Linked DNA regions of Homo sapiens: all the other regions are linked to region 3. The links come from fine-mapping of genetic effects on gene expression. A gene starts in region 3. Each other region holds a variant in brackets. All regions are shown on one strand. Distances are between the middles of the regions.

Region 1 (5,149 bases), 49 kb before region 3:
TAATAATCCTCTGAACACCTGAAGACAGCTGTGAGAGCTTAAAGATTTGCTGAGGCTAATCTGGGTACAGGTAATTGTGTTGATGATATGTTCAAATGCATCTAAGTCTATGCCTGAGTATAGTTGCTGGGTTATAAACAGGCACGTCACACTTCTCTTATACACTTCAGGAAGCTGGAGCGCTGGGTCTTGTTTTCCCTGAAGGCATTAGGGAATGTGCCTGCTCTTTTTCAGAGCGTAAACCTGGAATAGGTTTCCAACGAGGACAATGCAAGCCAGGGCTGAGAGGTGCCATGTGTATGGCACACTGCTGGCCCCAAAGACCAGTTAGGCCAGGAACCAATCCTGTTGAACAGTTAATTAGCACCTATTGTTTATTACTGTGAGTTCTTTCTGAGCTTACCAGTGGCCCTTTTGCCTAATCCAATGGACACTTTTCTTTTTTCTTTTCTTTCTTTTTTTTTTGAGATGGAGTCTCGCTGTCACCCAGGGTGGAGTGCAGTGGTGCCATCTCAGCTCACTGCAACCTCTGCCTCCCAGGTTCAAGCTATTCTCCTGCCTCAGCCTCCCAGGTAGCTGGGACTACAGGCATGAGCCACCAAGCCCGGCTAATTTTTGTATTTTTAGTAAAGTCAGGGTTTTGCCATGTTGGCCAGGCTGGTTTCGAACTCCTGACCTCAGGTGATCCACCCACCTTAGCCTCCCAAAGTGCTAAGATTCAGGTGTGAGCCACTGCGTCTGGCCCCAGTAAGCACTTTTCTATCCTCAGCTTCATGGACAGCCTTGCTGCATTTGCCATCTTGTCTTATTTTGGAGTGAAGCAGTACATTGTGATGTATTGGAGCCAGAATGCCTGGATCCAAGTCCTAGCTCTGCCCTTTGCAGCTCCATTGACCTTGAGCAAGTTACTTAACCTTTGAGTTTCATCATCTTTATCTCCATCTATAAAATGGGACTGATAATAGCATGTTGTCATAAGGTTGCTTGAAAATTTTTAAAGCTATTTTTTTAGCACAGGGGAGGAAAACAGTAAAAATTCAAAAAAAATTTAAAAACCTCTTCTCCATTGACTTCTGGAACATTTGGTTCTTCTCTTGACTGTTGGAGCAGTCCTTCTGTTTCTTTTGCCAGCCTTCTTCCACTCATCCATGAAAAACTGGTGGTTCCCCCAAGATTCTGTCTTTGATCCTCCCCTCTTCTCATTTTGTATAACTTTCCTATGTGATTTCTGCCCTTGGTCTTCCAAACCGTTGTGCCCTGATGCCTTCCAAACCTTTATCTCTAGGCTTTTTTCTTTGTAGACTCCTTTGTCTGGATGGTCCAAGTTTCCTTAAATTCAAAGGTCTAAAGCCAGAACTTCCACTCTTGGCTATAATGGGGTAGTAATTGGTATAAGACCAGCCATCCCACCATTAAAACACACACACACACACACACACACACACACACACACACACACCTGTAATCCCAACACTTTGGGAGCCTAGGTGGGCAGATTGTTTGAACCCAGCAGTTGTTTTTGTTTTTGTGTGTGTGTTTTTTTTTTGAGACCGAGTCTCGCTCTTGTTGCCCAGGCTGGAGTGCAATGGTGCAATCATCTTGGCTCACCGCAACCTCTGCCTCCCAGGTTCAAGCAATTCTGCCTCAGCCTCCCGAGTAGCTGAGATTACAGGCATGCACCACCACGCCGGGCTAATTTTGTATTTTTAGTAGAGACGGGGTTTCTCCATGTTGAGGCTGGTCTTGAACTCCTGACCTCAGTTGATCCACCCACCTCAGCCTCCCAAAGTGCTGGGATTACAGGCATGAGCCACCGCACCCGGCAAGCCCAGGAGTTTAAGACTAGCATGGTCAACATAGCGAGACCCTGTTGCGCATCCTGTGGTCCCAGCTACTTGGGAGCTGAGGTGGGAGGATTGCTTGACCCCAGGAGTTCAAGGCTGCAGTGAGCTGTGATTGTGCCATTGCACTTCAGCCTGAGTGACAGAGCGAGACCCCATCTCAAAAACAAAACAAAACAAACAAAAAAAACCAAGTATTAGTCAACTGTTTCAGGAATTGGCCAGGAGAGAGTACAAGTCTCTGGTCCCTGAGGGAAAAGAAACTCATCATTTTGTTTGTTTGTTTGTTTGTTTGTTTTTTGAGACAGAGTCTTGCTCTGTCGCCCAGACTGGAGTGCAGTGGCGCAATCTCAGCTCATGCAACATCCACCTCCTGGATTCAAGCGATTTTCCTGCCTCAGCCTCCTGAGTAGCTGGGATTACAGGCGCCTGCCACCATGCCTGGCTAATTTTTTGTATTTTTAGTACAGACAGGGTTTCACCGTGTTAGCCAGGATGGTCTCAATCTCCTGACCTCATGATCCGCCCACCTCAGCCTCCCAAAGTGCTGGGATTACAGGCATGAGCCACCGCGTCCGGCCGAGAAACTCATCTTTTTTAAGCCCCAGAATCATTCTGGCTCTTTACCTGGGGGGCAATTTCCTGGCATCCAAGTAGGAAAAGGAGAACTTAACTAAGCTGAGGAGGCAGAGTACAGAGTTTCGGGCAGCTGAGCAGCTGGAATCTGCTGGTTAGAACACTGGAGACAGGAGCTTTGCAGAGGAAGGACTCCAAAAAATCCTCGTGGGGGTGTCCTCTGAGCACTTGGTTAAGAGCTGTGTTGCACATTTGAAAGGTGAGAC[T/G]ACCCAAGGATGACCAGGTACCAGCTTCTGTGCGGTGGAAGAAGCTGAGCAGAGATTGAGTTCAAGCAGCAACGGAGGGGGCGGGCATTAGTTATGGCTCAGCCTGAGTGGGAAAGCACTCTAACACTTTGTTAATGACACTCCAGGCATCCAGCTGGGACATCGAAGAGTTCACGTCTTAAAAGTAAGGACCACGGCCGGGCGGGTGTCTCGCGCCTGTAACTCCAGCACTTCGGGAGGCCGAGGCGGGCTCAAGCTTGAACTTGAGCTCTTGAGCTTCAGCTCAGGAGTTTGAGACCAGCCTGGGCAACATGGTGAAACCCCATCTCTACAAAAACTACAAGTAGCCAGGTGTGGTGGCATGTGCCTGTAGTCCCAGCTACTCAGGAGGCTGAGGCAGGAGGATTGCTTGAGCCTGGGAAATTGAGGCTGCAGTGATCCCTGATCACACCACGGCACTCCAGCCTGGGTGATGACAGAGTGAGGCCCTGTCTTAAAAAAATAAATAAATGAAAGTAAGGATCATGGTCTACAGCAATATTTCTTAAATTGCTGTCCCCTGACCAGCAGCATCAACATAACCTGGAAATTTGTTAGACGTTACTGTTGGAAATGCAAATTCAAGGGCCCCACTTCAGACCTACTGAATCAGAAACTCAGGAGAAGAAGCCCAGAAATTTATGTTCTAACAATAGCTCTTCAGATGATTCAGATACAAACTAAATTTGAGGCGACTGTCCTAGAGGAAGGCCCACACTAGACATGCCCTAACAAAGCCTAAAACTACGCCTTGACAAAATCCACAAGGGAAACAGAGCTCGAAGGTTGGAAAAATATCTTGAAATTTCCAAAGATCTACCCTAACGAAGTTAAAAGCAAAACAAACAAAAAACTCGTATGCAAGCTCAAAGTGACCAGGAAATAACTGACCTGCCTATTGGAACAAAAATAAAGATAACAGAATCCAAAATTTCTACAACGTATTAGCTGTAGTGTCCAGTATTACCATAAAACATTACTAGACATGCAAAAAAAAAAAAAGGAAAAAAAGAAGAAGGAAGAAAGAAAATAAAGAAAAACAAAAGTAGTCAAAGAAATTGACCTGATCCTGAGACTACGCAGATATTAGATGTAGTAGACGAAGACATTTAAGCAGTATTTATAAAGATATTTGTCCAGGTGAGGTGGCTCATCCCTATAATCCCAGCACTTTGGGAGGCCAAGGCAGGAGAAACACTTGAGCCCAGGAGTTCGAGACCAGCCTGGACAACAAAGTGAGACCCTGTCTCTATGAAAAACTGAAAAAAAATAGCCGAGTATGGTGGTGCAGGCCTGTGATTCCAGCCTGTGGCTGAGGCAGGAGGTTTGATTGAGCCCAGGAGGTCAAGGCTGCAGTGAACCAAGATTGCACCATGCATTCTAGCCTAGGCAACAGAGTGAGACTCTGTCTCAAAAAAAAAAAAAAAAAATTAATCTTTTAAAGTAAAAATAAAGACATTCAAGCCTGGGAAATATAATACTACCCTGTCTCGTGGCCGGGCGCAGTAGCTCACGCCTGTAATCCCAGCACGTTGGGAGGCCGAGGTGGGCAGATCACTTGAGGTCAGGAGTTCGAGACCAGCCTGGCCAACATGGTGAAACCCCCTCTCTACTAAAAACACAAAAATTAGCTGGGCATGGTGGCAGGCGCCTATAGTCCCAGCTACTCGGGAGCCTGAGGCAGGAGAATTGATTGAACCTGGGAGGTGGAAGTTGCATGAGCTGAGATCACGCCGCTACACTCCAGCCTGGTGACAGAGCAAGATTGTCTCAAAAAAAATAAATAAATAAAGTAAAATAATAATAATAATAATAATAATAATAATAATAATACCCTGTCTCTACTAAAAAAACAAAAGTAAAGGCTAGGCGCAGTGGCTCACGCCTGTAATCCCAGCACTTTGAAAGACTGAGGCGGGCAGATCACAAGATCAAGCGATCGAGACCATCCTGGCCGATATGGTGAAACCCTATCTCTACCAAAAATACAAAAATTAGCTGGGCATGGTGGTGCGCACCTGTAATCCTAGCTACTCAGGAGGCTGAGGCAGGAGAATCACTTGAATCAGCGAGTTGGAGGTTGTAGTGAGCCGAGATCGCGCCACTGCGCTCCAGCCTGGGTGACAAGAGTGAGCTCTCGTCTCAAAAAAAAGAAAAGAAAAGAAAAGAAAAGTAAAAATTAGCTGGGTATGGTGGCTTGTGCCTATTGTCCTAGCTACTCAGGAAGCTGAGGAGGGAGGATCGCTTGAGCCCAGAAGTTTAAAGCTGCAGCGAGCTATGATCGTGCCACTGCACTCCAGCCTGAGTGACAGAGGAGATCTTGTCTCTAAAGGAAAAAAAGACCAGGCATAGTGGCTCATGCCTGTAATCCCAGCAGTTTAAGAGGCCGAGGCTGGCAGATTGCTTGAGTCCAGGAGTTTGAGACCA
Region 2 (5,149 bases), 210 kb after region 3:
TCAGCAAGTTAACGGTCATGTGTTTGTCTTGGGACTACCATTGAAGATGGGTTACATCGGCCAGGTGCGGTGGCTCACTCCTCTAATCCCAGCGCTTTGGGAGGCCAAGGCGGACAGATCACCTGAGGTCAGGAGTTCGAGACCATCTGGCCAACATGGTGAAACCTCATCTCTACTAAAAATACAAACAAAATTAGCCAGGCATAGTGGTGGGTGCCTGTAGTCCCAGCTACGTGGGAGGCTGAGGTAGGAGAATTCCTTGAACCCAGGAGGCGGAGGTTACAGTGAGTCGAGATCATGCCTTTGCACTCCAGCCTGGGCAACAACAGCAAAACTCCATCTTAAAAAAAAAAAAGATGGGTTACATAGCTGAATTGTGAATTATGAGTATCCTCAAACTTTGGCTCAAGTGGTAGGAGATTGAACACTCAAATAATACTCAAATCTGGATTGGAATAGGATGTGACAAAGCCTGTCACCACCCTCAGTGCCAAAGTTTATTTATAATCCCAAAGGCTTTACACGCAGAATTTTAAATGGAGAGAGTTGATGTACATTGAGTTTTCTGATGGTCTCATGAAAGTGCTGGGATGACCTTGATGTTGGTCATTGCATTTGAAACCAAAACCTTCTCGTTTCTCCTTTTCACCGTGCATAGCAAGGTTAACAGGACACTTTCCTTTTCTCTAGAGATCATCACTAACTTCAGACAGTATCTATCATCAAAGCCAATCAGATGACAGGAGGGAAGGTGGTGGATTGTCAATAGAATAAAGTTCCACTTGGATTTGCCAGTGATTAAGAATTTTACCTTCTTAGATTTGAACCTGGACTGTGGCCTCCCAACCTGCATTTCTTGGAATTCTAACTTCCTGCTTCCTCTTAAATGGATAAAGGCCTTTTTAGAGGCTGAACAGACTGGGAAACTTCCCAAGATGACAGCTTATTAGGCAGTGTTTTTAGGAGCAACAAGAGCTGCTGATCTTCTTGTTCTAGCAAATAAGTACAAAAGGTCTTCAAGTTGCAGGATCACATTCAGGTTAGACTGATCTCTTTAGAAAAAGAATTAACAATCAAAATGAGGAGGCCAATAGCGTGTCACATGAGGAGAATGACTATGATCATGTGATTCACTGGGCTGTTAGGCTTCCATAACCTCAGATGGACCTGTCAAGAACTCAGCGAAACAGGCAGGACAGATAAAGATATGTGACTGGTCAAGATCACACAGCTGGTAATAGGACTCAAATCTATACTCAAGGCCAAGCGCAGTGGCTGCCGCCTGTAATCCCAGCATTTTAAGAGGCCAAGGCAGGTGGATCACTTGAGGTCAGGAGTTCAAGACCAACATGGTGAAACCCCATCTCTACCAAAAATATAAAAATTAGCTGGGCATGGTGGTGGCACCTGTAGTCCCAGCTACTCAGGAGGCTGAGGCAGGAGAATCAGTTGAACCCAGGAGGGCAGTGGTTGCAGTGAGCCAATATCATGCCACTGCACTCCAGCCTGGGTGACAGAGTGAGACCTTGTCTTAAAAAAAAAAAAAAAAAAAAAAAAAAGTCTACACTCAAGACTCCTTGTCCCAGGTTCTAAATGCCCCATTTTTTTGATTCCAAAAATGTCTGTCATGACAACATGCAAAGAACTTAATTGAAAGAAGAGTTAGAAAACATAACCTGATTTTTCTTGTATATTCAATTTTTATATGATTTCTTTATTATAAAGCCTTCTGGGCACTGAGGCTTTGTATTTGAGTTTTTTGTTTTGTTTTGTTTGGATTTGATTTTTATTTTATTTTTTTTTTTGAGACGGAGTCTGGCTCTGTAGCCCAGGCTGGAGTGCAGTGGCGCGATCTCAGCTCACTGCAAGCTCCGCCTCCTGGGTTCACACCATTCTCCTGCCTCAGCCTCCGGAGTAGCTGGGACTACAAGTGCCCGTCACCACGTCCGGCTAACTTTTTCTATTTTTAGTAGGGACGGGGTTTCTCCATGTTAGCAAAGATGGTCTCGATCTCCTGACCTCGTGATCTGCCCACCTCAGCCTCCCAAAGTGCTGGGATTACAGGCGTGAGCCACCGCGCCCGGCCTTGGATTTGATTTTTTAAGTCATAGGAAGTGTGACATTTTGGCATGGCTGTTTAGATGAAATAACGTTTTGACACCATGACCCTAAAAACAAAATCCATCTTCAGCTACTGGGTAGGATGATACAGATGTTCTGACCTTATCCTACCTTTTCCTTGACACATTCACCATTTCTGAACCCCCAAGGTCAAAGGGAGGATTAGGTTTAAATATAGAAAGAGACTCAGGGGACATCCACAAAATGTTTTACATCAATTCCAAGGTCTAAGCTATTGGACTGGGTACAGCCTTTTCTCCTGTCTCCTCTTTTCACTTACTAGTACCCAGCATTCCTGTTTCTAACTCTTCATGCCAATAAATTTAGGGGACAAATGTGATTACCCAAATGCTAACCTGTATGAGCAAGTGCCATGGCCTACTAAAATAGGCTGGGTTTGTGGTCAGAATGCCTAGGGGTGAAACCCCAGCTTTGCTACTTGCAAGTCATGAGACTTTGAAGAAGATGCCTTACCTCTCAGTACCAGTTTCTTAACTGGTAAAATAGGGATAATAATCCTGACCTCATAAGGTTATTATAAAAATGAGATGAGTTGGCCAGGCGTGGTGGCTCACGCCTGTAATCCTAGCACTTTGGGAGGCTGAGGCTGGTGGATCATTTGAGGTCAGGAATTCAAAACCAGCTTGGCCATCATGGTGAAACCCCGTCTCTACTAAAAATACAAAAAATTAGCTGGGCATGGTGGTGTGAGCCTGTAATCCCAGCTACTCAGGAGGCTGGGGCAGGAGAATCACTTGAACCCAGGAGGCAGGGGTTGCTGTGAGCTGAGAT[C/T]GTGCCACCGCACTCCAGCCTGGGTGACAGAAGGAGACTCCATCTCAAAAAAAAAAAAAAAAAATGAGACGAGTTATAGACAGTTATTTCCTTTCCCATCTCCTTTTTAAACTCTAGTGTGACTGCATTCCTCTTTGTTAATTCTATCAAGCCTTTCCATTTTAAATCCTTTTATGATTTTTTTAACTCTTTCATTCACTGAAATTTTTTATTCTTTTATTCACCTGTTTATTCCATAAACATTCATTGCTGGAGTACCAACTATGCAGGATTCACCAGAGAAATAAATCAACAAAATTGACCCTCTGCCTTCTGGAAACTCCCAGGCATGATAAGACTGTTTTATGGAAGGGGCACACACCCAGGCTCGAGCCAGAGATCTACAAGATGAATAGGAGTTAGGCAGATGAGTAGGGGGAAAAGGGATCGGGAAATGCCTGGGCCCGGAGGAAAGAACACGGTATCATCAAGTCCATGAAATCAGTTCAGGGTGGCTGCCTTAAAGGAGGAGAAAGTGTGAAGAAATCCAACCTTTGCACTGTTCAACATTAAATAGGGTTCATGGCCCTGTGTTAACTGTGGGAGGAAGAGATTTGGTCCCTATGACAAGGAAGCTAGGGGAGCCAGTAATCACAGAGAAAGAACCCTCAATCATTCATTCCTTCTTAGGACTTTCAGGAAATGGTGGAGCCCTGCGTTTATCTACACTGCTGAAGCTAGAGCTGCCCCTAGTGAAAAACTCCCTTCCTGCTGCCTTCCTGGCCCCAGGGGGGGATGCCTCCCAACTCTGAGCTTGTCCAGGAGTTTATAGCAGCAATCAAAGCTTTTAGGGCTGCCCACCTGTTTCTTGTGCAGGTCCAGGTTCCAGCCTCTGGGACCTTCACCCTTTCCTCTTGGGTCATACAGCAGCTGCATGTGGGTGTCCCCACTGTTCCTACGTAAACCCCCCATGGGACAGGAATGCAGGCTTCTCAGCAAAGGTGATGGAGGCCTATAGTCCTCCAGATGACTGAGGGTGGATGATATGGTTTGGCTGTGTCCCCACCCAAATCTCGTCTTGAATTGTAGCTCCCATAATCCCTATGTGTCATGGGAGGGACCTGGTGGGAGGTAATTGAATCATGGGGGCAGGTTTTTCCCGTGCTGTTCTCACAATAGTAAGTCTCATGAGATCTGATGGTTTTATAAAAGGCAGTTCCCCTGCACATGCTGCCCTGCCTGCTGCCATGTAAGACATGCCTTTGCTCCTCCTTCACCTTCTGCCATGATTGTGAGGCCTCCCTGGCCATATGGAGCTGTGAGTCCATTGAATCTCTTTCCTTTATAAATTACCCAGTCACGCATATGTCTCTATTAGTAGCATGAGAATGGACTAATACAGTGGAGGAGAATCCTAAGTAAAATCTTCAGAGACACATTGGCTTCCCCAACAGGATCATATTTCCTTGAAACTCCATTCTGCACAGTTACCAGAAACAAAAGCAACACTAATCCCTGCATATGCAAGAAATATGACCTTTCCTAGGCTAATTTTTAGCCACCCTTCTTTCTTGGCTCGTTCTACTTTGTTTGTCAAAAATCTTCATTAATGATTAACCAACCATGAGGTTTAAATAACCTTAGTCATTCTAAGGCAGCTAAGAGATGTCACTGAAGCCCAGTTTTTTCTGAGATGACCTTGCTGGGGGTGTGCTGGGTCAAAACATTTGCACTTAATGGTATTGTGATAACACTGGGCCATGCCAGTTTGGTTTTGCTGGGATTTTTCCGCTCCTTTTTCACGACCTTTATTCCAAACTGACAGCACCATGAGATAGTTTTACTTCCGTCGACCTCACCACCCTCACACCTCCACCCCCATTCAAATTTGGCCATTTGACCCTTTCTCAATCTTATATAGAGTACTATGCAGACTCAGCTTCCCAATAAACCCCTAATGTCCCCTTTCCAAATAAGACACTCCCCTAAGGAGAGAAATTCTGGAAATGCAACTGATTCTAAATGTGCTCTAGCATTTATAGAGGGAATCTCTTGTGCATAAGAGACAACAGCCAAAATAATCTACTTAGAAATTACCCAACGCTTTAGTGCAAACAGCCGTGCCACTGAGTGCTCAGTCAAGCCTGCCTTCGGCGAGCATGTCTTTTTTTGGTTCCTCATTTTCCTTGTGTTTGGGAATAATGTTAAAGTCTTAGATGATGATCATTCAGCAGGAGATAAGAATAATGGCTGACAG
Region 3 (5,149 bases):
CATCTGAAAAAGGGTAACTGACCCTCTTTGAGATGAGGACTCACTTCCTGAAGTGGAACCTGAGCCTCCTCAAGCAGGAGTTTTCCCTGACTCCAGTTCCAGTTCACCTGGAGTCACTGACCTCCACACTTTCAAATTTCTTTTATTTTTATCATTTTTTAAATTTATTTATGTGTTTATTTTTTTTTTTGAGACGGAGTCTTGCTCTTTCGCCCAGGCCGGAGTGCAGTGGCGCGATCTCGGCTCCCTGCAAACTTCACCTCCCGGGTTCAAGCCATTCTCCCGCCTCAGCCTCCCGAGTGGCTAGAATTACAGGTGCCTGCCACCATGCCCAGCCAATTTTTGTATTTTTAGTAGAGACGGGGTTTCGCCACGTTGGCCAGGCTCATCTGGAACTCCTGACCTCAGGTTATCTGCCTGCCTCGACCTCCCAAAGTGTGGGGATTACAGGCGTGAGCCACCGTGCCCAGCGAGAATGTCCCCTCTAGAATCCTTCAGCTCAGACAGTCTGTGACAGCGAGCCTTTTTTGAGGCCATAATCCAGATACTTCTGGAAAAGAAAAGAAAATTTCAGGCTAATATGGAGCTGGGTTTTTTAGTTGTCTTAAGGGGGTGGAGCCGTTGTTTGTGCCTGGCAGCATCAACCCTTAGGTCTGGTGAGGGAACTTAGCTAAGAGAGTTCCCACTGCCTGCTGTTCACAGTACATGCTGGCTGGTATCGACAAAGAATGAACCTAAAACACAGGAAATGTTGAATTTGTCTGGGTTAAATTTTGCCTCATGAGAAGATAAAAGATCAGAAGGATTTAAAATGTTCCAGAATGCTTTGCTGGTTTTAAGGAATCATTTTTCCCAAAGGTGGCAAATGCTGCTTTTTAAATTTATGGTTTTCTTGATACCCCTTCAGCCTTTGTTTCTCTCTCTTAGGACTACTACTTTTTAATTAATTTTCACTTAACTTTCCAATACTGATGAAATAAAGAAAAATGAGGGTTATTTATATATATTTTAATAAATCCAGTTTGATTTTTCAACTTAAAAAAAAATTAACTAGAACTGAGAACCAGTCCTGGCCTCACCACCTTGGACTTACACTTAACCTGTGTGATCTCAGTGTCTTCATCTGCAAAATGGGGACAAAATAGCTCATAGGATCATTTTGTAAGGATCACATAAAGTAAGAAGGGTGAAAGTGCTCCATAAAGTAGAAAGGGCCTCACTAATGGAAAGGGATTATGATTTCTTTCTTTAAATGTGAAGTTAAATGGAGGATAAAGGGTGGAGGCACTGATAACATTTTAGCCTTCAATAATCACTTTTTAATATTTATGAGGAGTTTCAAAATCATTTCCCTCTCTTTCATACTGCTTTTCAAACGGCAAGGGTCATTATTTGTCCGGCCCAGTCTGGGATAAGTAACTATCCCAGGGTAAGACACCAGGTCAAGTGCCAAAATACAAATGAGAATTAAGCATAGCAGATGGGTGATTGCTGGGCCCTGAATTTCCTTCCCGTTAGTGAGCTTCATGGAATGCAGGCAAATTTATCTCCATTTCTGTTGTCAATCTTGTAACTTTTAAGTGAGATGAAATTCAGTTGGCTACCCTTTACAGGGACTTTATTTCCCATTGTATTCAAGACTGTCAGCAATGAATATAAACTGTTTGTAAAAATCCCATCGTTAGAATCTTCCAGAAACTGAGGCTGGGAGAGATTAAATATCTTGCTCATGGCCTCACAGCTGGTGAGTGGCAATGCTGGTGCTACAGCCCATGTCTAACTCTGACCACACACTCTTCTTCAGAAAAAAGCCATAATGTAAATAATAATAAGAAGAATAACAACAACAATAACGGCAGCTAACACTGTGTGCTAGGCACCGTTCTAAGCTCTTTGCATGTGTTAACTCAACCAGCAAAGAACCATTTTTGGAACATTCTTTCACTAAAGTAGCCCGGTATTTTTTTCTTTCCCCTCAGCTGAATGACACTGCAACCCGAAATCACAACTCTGTTTTAGGTTCCTGGTGGTGCCTGCTTCCTCTTCTAGTTTGTTTAGTCACAGAATTCGATTCCTGTTGGCCCATTCCGCGCCTACAAACAGGCTTAGCGCTCCACTGAAATGCGGGAGGCTCCTTAACTCTTGTATAAACAGGTAAGGCGGAGGGGGTGGGGCGCGGATTGCGGACATCTGGGTTTCTTGGGAATTGGGATGGGGTGGGGGTTCGAGCCAACTCCCCAGAGAGCAGGCAAGGTGAAGCGAGGGCTTGGCTGCTGTTTCTAAATGCAGTGTTTTTTTGTTCCCTTTCTAGAAACCCTCCGTAACTCTAGGTCAGAGCGCACTAAAATGAGCCACTTCTGAACGAGCAGCGCCCAGGCCCCAGGCCCTGCTGCGAAGGCCCCGGCAAAGGTCAGGGCCCCGTCCGCGTGACGCTCCTGCCTGCGCGCGGCCAAGCCATGCTCGGCCCCAGGTAAGGACGCCCCGGGAGCTCGCCCCGGGAGCTCTCCCCGGGCACGCGGGGGTCGCAGAGATCCCACCTCGTCCAGCGACTTGTTTATGGGGGGAAGAAGGGGAGCGGGGCGGTTCCGATCGGCTTGAAATTCAGCAGCAGGTTCCTAATTTCTCCAACGTGGTTCTGGCTGGGTTTCTCGGAGCAGCCCGAAGGGGGCCGAGCGTCTGACTCGGACAGATGCCCCCAGGTGGAGCAGGTGCCACTTCTGGGTGTCTGAAAGGCATGTGACTTTTGGGGCGGGGAGAGAAGTCCGTCTGGTCAAGTCCCCCAATCTCTGCCATCAAGGCCGATTTTCTTTGAACCTTCAGCAAAGGTATCTGCGCTCCTAAAAAACAACAGGAATGTGGCACTGGCCTTTAGCCAGGGGAGGCTCAGCCAGCAGGATAAAATTTCAGGGCAGATTTACGGGAAGTTGCCGGTGTTGGGAGTAAAAATCTGGTTTGGTGAGTTTAAGGGAAGGGAGTAGACGAGAGACAACCTTGCTACTGTGAGGCGGATGGCCTCGGCAGGGGGCGGGCGGCGGGAGGAGAGAGGGAGGGAACCGGGAAGGGCCCGCAGACTAGACGCTGAGCGCTCCCGTGCGCAGCGCCCCACGCAGCCGGGACGCGGCGCCGCTCTGCGGGTGGAACCGCCGCGCGCTCCCGGCCTCGGGAGCTGAGCCCGAGAGAACTTCGCTGCCTTCGGGTCGCCGCTCCCGCTTTCCACTGTGGAATGTGCAGCTTGGGATAGAGAGAAACCAGGGTTTGGGGAGCGGTCCTCCTGGAGACTTTCTCTCTGCAAGTCTCCAAGGTTAAGCAATTCTGACCCACTGGAATTCCCAGAGCCTGGGAGTTAAGCCTAAAACGCTCTGTTGCTTTAAGCGGCGCGGTGGGGAGTCGCTGGACACTCCTTATTTTGGTTTTACATTAAAAAGAAGGCGGACGAGAAGATGTTGTAGGTGACTTCCTAGCTGTGTTAAGTTGCTCCTGGGCTGTGAATGGTGTTAATTTCTGAAGTGGGCGGCTCCAAAAACTTAACAAGGAAAGGTAAGGTGGTTTTTGGTAGTCCTTCTAACTATTGTCCCTTAATCTTACATTTGGGTCCCAATTTTTGAAGTGTATATTTTTTTCTTATTCTTCTCTCTTTAGCTCTTATCCCTCATGCTATCACTCATCTTCTGTCTCTTGGTATATTTAGTGGGAAATAAAGGGTTTATAAAACGGTTTTAAAAGGGTCAACCTCTGGGAAGGCAGATAATCATATACAGTCAGTCCCATCGTGTTTCCTGTAGTGATGAATCTTTTCCCATAAAAGAAACTGATTTTTTTTTTTCACTCTTGAAAATACATGATTGGACCGCCCAGAAGCACAGGTGACTTTAGACTCAGATTATTACAGTGAGACTGAGGAAGCGTCCTGGACAGGAGGCATCTCATTTAAGTGTTAACCAAGGCAGAGGGGGGTCTTCCTGCAGTAATTTACGTCTGAAAGTAACACTCGGTAGAGGTGTAGTTGTTTCAAATTAAAAATTCAGCCTGTAGAAAAGGGTAGGACTGACGAATTATGACATCTGACAAATTAGCAGTTGACCGGATATTTAAGAAATCAGATAAAATAAATGGAAGTGGAATTTTTCAAATAAATGACTCATTTTTTAATTAGGTAAAAGTTCAGCCACTCTTGGGTACTGTCCCAAGGCATAAGTGATAGGAAGATACCATCTTCAAGGTACTTACAGGCCATTACCGACCTGAACTAAAAATCAAACCTTTTTTTTTTATCTGGTGGTATTTTAATGACTCACTGTTTTCTTTAGCAGGAATATAGATTTTAAAATGTATTCTTTAAAAGTTTTAAGGCAAGGTCATACGAATTTCTCAGGGGAGGGAAAGCAAAGGGTTGACAACCCAACATGAAGGAGTTGCCGAAGTTTTGAGCTCAAAAGGTTGGCAATTAGATCCAGAGCATTTGAGAATTGCAGGTGCCGATTCTAAAAGGTGAAAGGTGGTCAGCGGCGTAACACACAACCTCTAGATAAACCAAAGTACTCAACCTAGAGCATAAGAAGAGATCACTTTGTGGGAGTTTGTGTTGCTATTAATTTAAACAATGATCTTTGTTAGATCAATGACTTGAAGTCTTGGAGGGAACTAAAATCAACCCAGTCTGAAAGGAAAACAGAAGGAAAAAAAGAAAGGAGGAGATGGTTTGGTTTTTAATATTTTTTTCTGGTCTGCTTTACCCTTCACCTTGTTCTGATATACACACTGTTGGCCTCTTTGACTTAATTATTGCATGCTGGAAGGATGGGGTCTCAGAAATTTCCCAAGCACCTAGCTTCATTATTAACTTTCAGTATGTGTCAAATGAAGAAATAAGCCTAGCTGTGCCGTCCTTTACCTGGCTAGGTAGGCCATGCTTTAAATTAATTAGATCAAGATATTCTGAATATCAATCAATTATTAAAGATTTATTATCTTCCTCTTGGTTTTTGCGTTTACAGAAGTTTGTAGGATTGAGAATTCATCATCATCATTTTTTTTACCAATCTCTATATTTTTAATAGTCAACATATTTATTTTTGATTCCCCCACTGTGCTGCTTTAAATTAAATTTTGAAAGAATTCTGCCCAAAGCAGTAGTGATACTGAGGATGAA
Region 4 (5,149 bases), 50 kb after region 3:
GTGATTCTTGTGCCTCAGCCTCCCAAGTAGCTGGGATTACAGGTGTGCACCACCATGCCCAGCTAATTTTTTTTGTATTTTTAGTAGAGACGGAGGCTGGTTTTGAACTCTCGGACTCAAGTGATCTGCCCACCTCAGCCTCCCAGTAAATGCTGGAATTACAGGCGTGAGCCACTGTGCTTGGCCGGCCTGACCTTGCTTTTGTCTCCCTTTGCTCTTTCTTGTTCTTTATTCCCATTCTGCAATTAACCCATAACCTTGAAGCTCCTTTTCCCTGTCTCTTCTGTACTTCGCACATTCCACTTACTCTACTAGTTTGATTTTTGAGTGTGTATTGAGCACTTGCTATGTGCTAAGCTGCCTTCGAGGTGCTTATTCACTAGCAGAAAGAGTTTATAAATAAGGGCAATGCAATGTTACAGTTGCTCTGATAGAGTTGGAAGAGAGTACAGCATGGGCAAGGGTGGTAATGAGACATGGATTCTACCAGGGTGGTGACTAGACTTTGTAGAGGAGGTGACAATTGAATGGTTTTGATGACTGACTAGGCGTTGAGAGTAGGGTATAAGGTTGAAGAAGAAACAGGTAGAGGGCTCAGTGCAACACATGAAACAGCCCGGAGCCAGAAGAATGTGTTCAGGAAACGTGACAAGTTTGTATGGCATATGGGGTCATAGTACGGAAGGATGGAGTTGGAGTGAGGCAGGGAACAGATCCTGGAATGCTTTGCTGACTATTGGTAGTGAGTGATGTCATCAGATCCTAGTTTTTGTTTTTATTGTTTGTTTGTTTGTTTTGAGATGGAGTCTTGCTCTGTTGCCCAGGCTGGAGTACAGTGGCATAATCTCGGCTCACTGCACCCTCCACCTCCTGGGTTGAAGCGATTCTCCTGCCTCAGCGTCCCAAGTAGCTGGGATTACAGGCACGCACCACCACACCTGGCTAATTTTTGTATTTTTGGTAGAGTCGGGGTTTTACCATGTTGACCAGGCTGGTCTTGAACTCCTGACCTCAGGTGATCCTCCTGCCTTGGCCTCCCAAAGTGCTGGGATTACAGGCGTGAGCCACTATGCCTGGCCCAGATCTTAGTTTTGGAAAGATTAGTTTGGCAACAAGGACTAGAGTTAGGAATGGCACCTGTTAGTAAGCTATAGTGAGGGTCTGAGTGAAGAACTTGAACTAAGACATAGGCTGCAGGGATAGTAAGAGGGAGATGAGACATGAAGATTCGAGATGGGTTCTGGGAGTGGACTCAGTAAGCCTCAGTGACTGACTGGGTGAAGGGAGTGTAGGAGCAGGAGTGAGAGGCGCCAACCGGGATTCTGGTGTAGGGACCTGGGGGATGGCGATCCACTTGCTAAGATGGGTGCAGAGGAGGGGAAGCGGGTTCGGGGGAGATAATGAGGTCAGCATTGGATATGGTGAGCTTGAGGCGCTGCTCACAGAGTGGAGGAGGGAGGTCTGGTTGCTCCTGGGGCTGGCGTTCAGGAGACAGCTGGGCTCCCGAGCTCTGTGACTGTGGGAGCTGCTGAAGCTCCCTTTCACTTCTTTTCCCTCTTGCAGGACTGATGCCATACACCTGGGCTGCAGCCTCTCTTCACACACACCCTGAAGGCTCTCTGGTTATCTTTTAAGGCATTTTCTGTCTGTGGTTTCTGAGCTGTCTTCTGAAGAAGAGATAATTTAATCTCACCTCTTCCCCCACCACCCCCACCTTCTCATCCACTCACAAGTAGATTGTATCAACCTGGAAGAAGTCTTCCTCCAAGAAACCAAACAAACCATCTCTATGAGATGCTTTCTCATTCTTCATCTTCCCCAGAGTCCCCCTGCAAGCTTAACACTCTCCAATGACCTCTCCTTTTATTTATTTATTTATTTATTTATTTATTTATTATTACTTTTTTTTTGAGACAAGTTCTCGCTCTGTCACCCAGGCTGGAAGCAGTGGTGTGAGCTCGGCTCACTGCAACCGCTGCTTCCCGGACTCAAGGGATCTTCCCACCTCAGCCTCTCGAGTAGCTGGGACTACAGGCGCATGTCACCATGCTCAGCTAATTTTTAAATGTTTTGTAGAGATGAGGTCTCACTATATTGTCCAGGCTGGTCTCGAACTCCTGGACTCAAGCAACCTTCCCATCTCGGCCTCCCAAAGTACTGGGATTATAGGCCTGAGCCACCGTGCCCGGCTTTCTCCTTTTCTTTAGACTAAAACCCAAGCTCCCTCCTATGGCTCATGAGTTTTTCAGCTCATGACCTCTGGCCACCTCCCAACCTCTGTGCTCCCACCTCTGCCTCCATTACCAGATTCCAGCCACAGATTCTTGTTCCTGGAATTAAAGCGAAAACAAAATGAACAAACCTGTTCCCGCCATGGGGCGTTTGCCCTTGTTTGTGCCTAGATTGCTCTTTCCCTAGATCCTTGCTAGGCTCCCTGTCTCTTTGTTCAACTCTCAGCACAAATATCAGAGTGGCCTTCTCTCTCTCACCAATCTCTGTTAATCTCTGTCCCATTCCTCTGCTTTATTTACCTCACAACTTTTACCACTGTCTGAAATTCTCCTGTCTCTGCCTTTATGTATTGTACATCCTTTCCCATTCATGTGCGAGCAGTGGTAGGGATCATTCCTCAATATGTGTGAGAGCTGAGCCTAACTGAATGATATGGGAAACTTGCTCAGCAATGCAAGGAAAGAGAACGGGTGGCTGCGGCTGCCAGTGCGTGCTGGTGAATGCAGCCCATGGGCGGTTGGTGGGTTGGGGAATGATGGTAACCAAATTTCAAGGCCTTTAAACCATCACCGTGCTGTGGTCATCGGGCTTTCTCTTCAGCATCCCTCCTAATTATCTGGCCTT[C/TC]CCACGTGCCTGAGGTTCCTGATCTGGTGTCCACAATGATCTGAGAACTGATTCAAGGATTCTTGGAGCCCTCAGACCCAGGAAGAAGAGAGTTTTTAGGTTCCAAATGAGGAGAGTAAACTTTTTGTTGTTCAGTTTGATTATCCTTCACAACAAAGAGAAGGTACTAGAAACTTGGATGAGGGAGATGAGACAGTGGAAAGGATTCAAGCACACAGATGAGTCACTTGGATTCTAAGAGTTAAAAAAAAAAAAGTATGAGGAAACACATTTAGAAAATATCCATGAAGTGGACTCATTTGACTTTGCTAACTAAACCAAGTTCAACTGAAGGAAAATTTTTTACTGGTGAGAGGTCCAGGATATTTGGCATGTTGGAACTTAGACCAATTCGAATTTATAAATCCTCTAAAAGTAGGCCGGAAGCGGTGGCTCACTCCTGTAATCCCAGCACTTTGGGAGGTCAAGGCAGGAAGATCCCTTGAGCCCAGGAGTTCAAGACCAGCCTGGGCAACAAGGCGAGACCCTGTCTCTACAAAAATAAAAAATAATTTAAAAAAATAGACAGGCATGGTAGTGTGCACCTGTGGTCACCTCTACATGGGAGACTGAGGTAGGAGGATCCCTTGAGCCAGGGAGGCAGAGGTTGCAGTGAGCTGTGATTGTGCCACTGCAGTCCAGCCTGGGTGACAGAGTGAGACCTAGTCTCAAAAAAAAAAAAAAAATTACCCTAAAGTTTACTTTCTCAATGTAATAACTCCAGCAAAGACCCACAGAGAAAAATGCTTCAGAGCTTCTTGGGAATGTAGATTGACTCGTGTATGGAGAAGTGCTCTGATTTGAACCACCTCCATAAGATGGGTAAATTTTCTTCATATCATCTCCCTAAAATAGGTAATCTAGTTCCCACTTAAGTCAGATCTTATTTTTTATAATTTTAATAACTTTTAAATAATTACCCTTAAAGTTATAGAGTTTTACCTAGAGAATCTGAACTAGTTATTCCCATCCAATTTGTTTCTTTGCTATTGCATTTTTTTTTTTTTTTTTTCTGAGACAGGGTCTCGCTCTGTCACCCAGGCTGGAGTATAGTGGCATGATCTCGACTCACTACAACCTCCACCTCCCGGGTTCAAGTGGTTCTCCTGCCTCAGCCTCCTGAGTAGCTGGGACTACAGGCGCGTGCCACCATGCCCAGCTAATTTTTTGTATTTTTAGTAGAGATGGGGTTTCAGTGTGTTAGCCAGGATGGTCTCAGTCTCCTGACCTCGTGATCCGCCAGTCTTGGCCTCCCAAAGTGCTGGGATTACAAGCGTGAGCCACCGTGCCTGGCTGCATTTTTTTTTTTTTTAATTTAAGATAGAGTCTCGCTCTGTTGCCCAGGCTGGAGTGCAGTGGCATGATCTTGGCTCACTGTAGCCTCCGCCTCCCAGGTTCAAGTGATTCTTCTGCCTCAGCCTCCTGAGTAGCTGGGAGTACAAGTGCACGCCACCATGTCTGGCTAATTTTTTGTTATTTTAGTGGAGATGGGGTTTCACCATATTGCCCAGGCTGGTCTTGAACTCCTGACCTCAAGTGATCTGCCCTCCCTGGCCTCCCAAAGTGCTGGAATTACAGGCGTGAGCCATCGTGCCCAGCTTGCTATCACATTTTGAGCACCTACTGTGTGTAGCATTGTGCCAAGCACTTTGTGTGCGTTACCCCTTAGCCCTTACAGCAGGCCCTGCTACACAGCACCATTTACAGATGAGGAACTGAGGCAGTGAGAAGTCATATCTCTTGTCCTAGGTAACATAATAACTCTAGAAGTTAAGGTAGAAGAGAAAATGATAGAAAAGGCCATAAGCAAAGCTTTCAGATGGAAGAACAATGAAATCTAAGTGGTGGGCATGTAGAAAGAAAAAGCTAAGAACACTGAAAATGAATGGAAGTAGAAAATGGAGGCAGAGGGAGGCCATTTATTCTACAATTGTCTATAAGTGTCAGGAGGAAAATCCTATGTGTCAAAAGACAAAATTGCAACAAATTTAGTTTAAAGTTCTCAATTGCTTTTATTTGAGTTTCTAGAATCGGGCAACACTTCCTTCCATATTATAGGAAAAGGGTTCCAGTCAGCCGAGCAGAAGAGCTTGGCTTTATAAAGTAGAAGGAAAGAACTTAAAGTATATTAATTGTTTCAAAGATACTTTTTTTGTAAGGAATGGGACAACAGGAGACAGAACAACAGAAAAATAACATCAGATTACTTTAAGGATTAAAGCAGGGAGTTTCATTATGCCAATTAAAGATTTGA

Which allele goes with the higher level. Alleles are on the strand shown, and positions count from the first base shown. SD is a standard deviation of normalised expression in the study named. Not every link is listed here.
For the expression in thyroid of the gene that starts at base 3,069 in region 3, allele C in region 2 goes with a higher level than allele T (small effect, 0.23 SD a copy in GTEx).
With allele C in place of TC in region 4, the expression in fibroblasts of the gene that starts at base 3,069 in region 3 is higher (moderate effect, 0.42 SD a copy in GTEx).

What was found. PIP is the estimated chance that this variant, and not a neighbour inherited with it, causes the effect.
Region 1: its variant is the best candidate, but not a certain one, in a credible set for the expression of RBM47 in thyroid (GTEx, PIP 0.66).
Region 2: its variant is the best candidate, but not a certain one, in a credible set for the expression of RBM47 in thyroid (GTEx, PIP 0.80).
Region 4: its variant is the best candidate, but not a certain one, in a credible set for the expression of RBM47 in fibroblasts (GTEx, PIP 0.59).

Annotation. Positions count from the first base shown.
Region 1 is chr4:40,676,888-40,682,036 of GRCh38, reverse strand. No RefSeq gene overlaps it. Among named protein-coding and RNA genes, the nearest start is that of RBM47, 50 kb to the right of the region's middle. The variant T/G (reference allele first, on the strand shown) is at 2,684.
Region 2 is chr4:40,418,012-40,423,160 of GRCh38, reverse strand. No RefSeq gene overlaps it. Among named protein-coding and RNA genes, the nearest start is that of RBM47-AS1, 5.5 kb to the left of the region's middle. RefSeq lists a cis regulatory region at 4,498-4,511 and an enhancer at 4,432-4,576. The variant C/T (reference allele first, on the strand shown) is at 2,914.
Region 3 is chr4:40,627,784-40,632,932 of GRCh38, reverse strand. RBM47 (RNA binding motif protein 47) reads left to right here and starts at 3,069. Exons shown (of 7, transcript NM_001098634.2): 1 at 3,069-3,537. RefSeq lists enhancers at 3,206-3,275, 2,458-3,335, 3,336-4,212.
Region 4 is chr4:40,578,182-40,583,330 of GRCh38, reverse strand. The region is part of intron 1 of RBM47 (RNA binding motif protein 47); the gene reads left to right. Among named protein-coding and RNA genes, the nearest start is that of RBM47, 49 kb to the left of the region's middle. RefSeq lists a silencer at 1,174-1,352. The variant C/TC (reference allele first, on the strand shown) is at 2,857.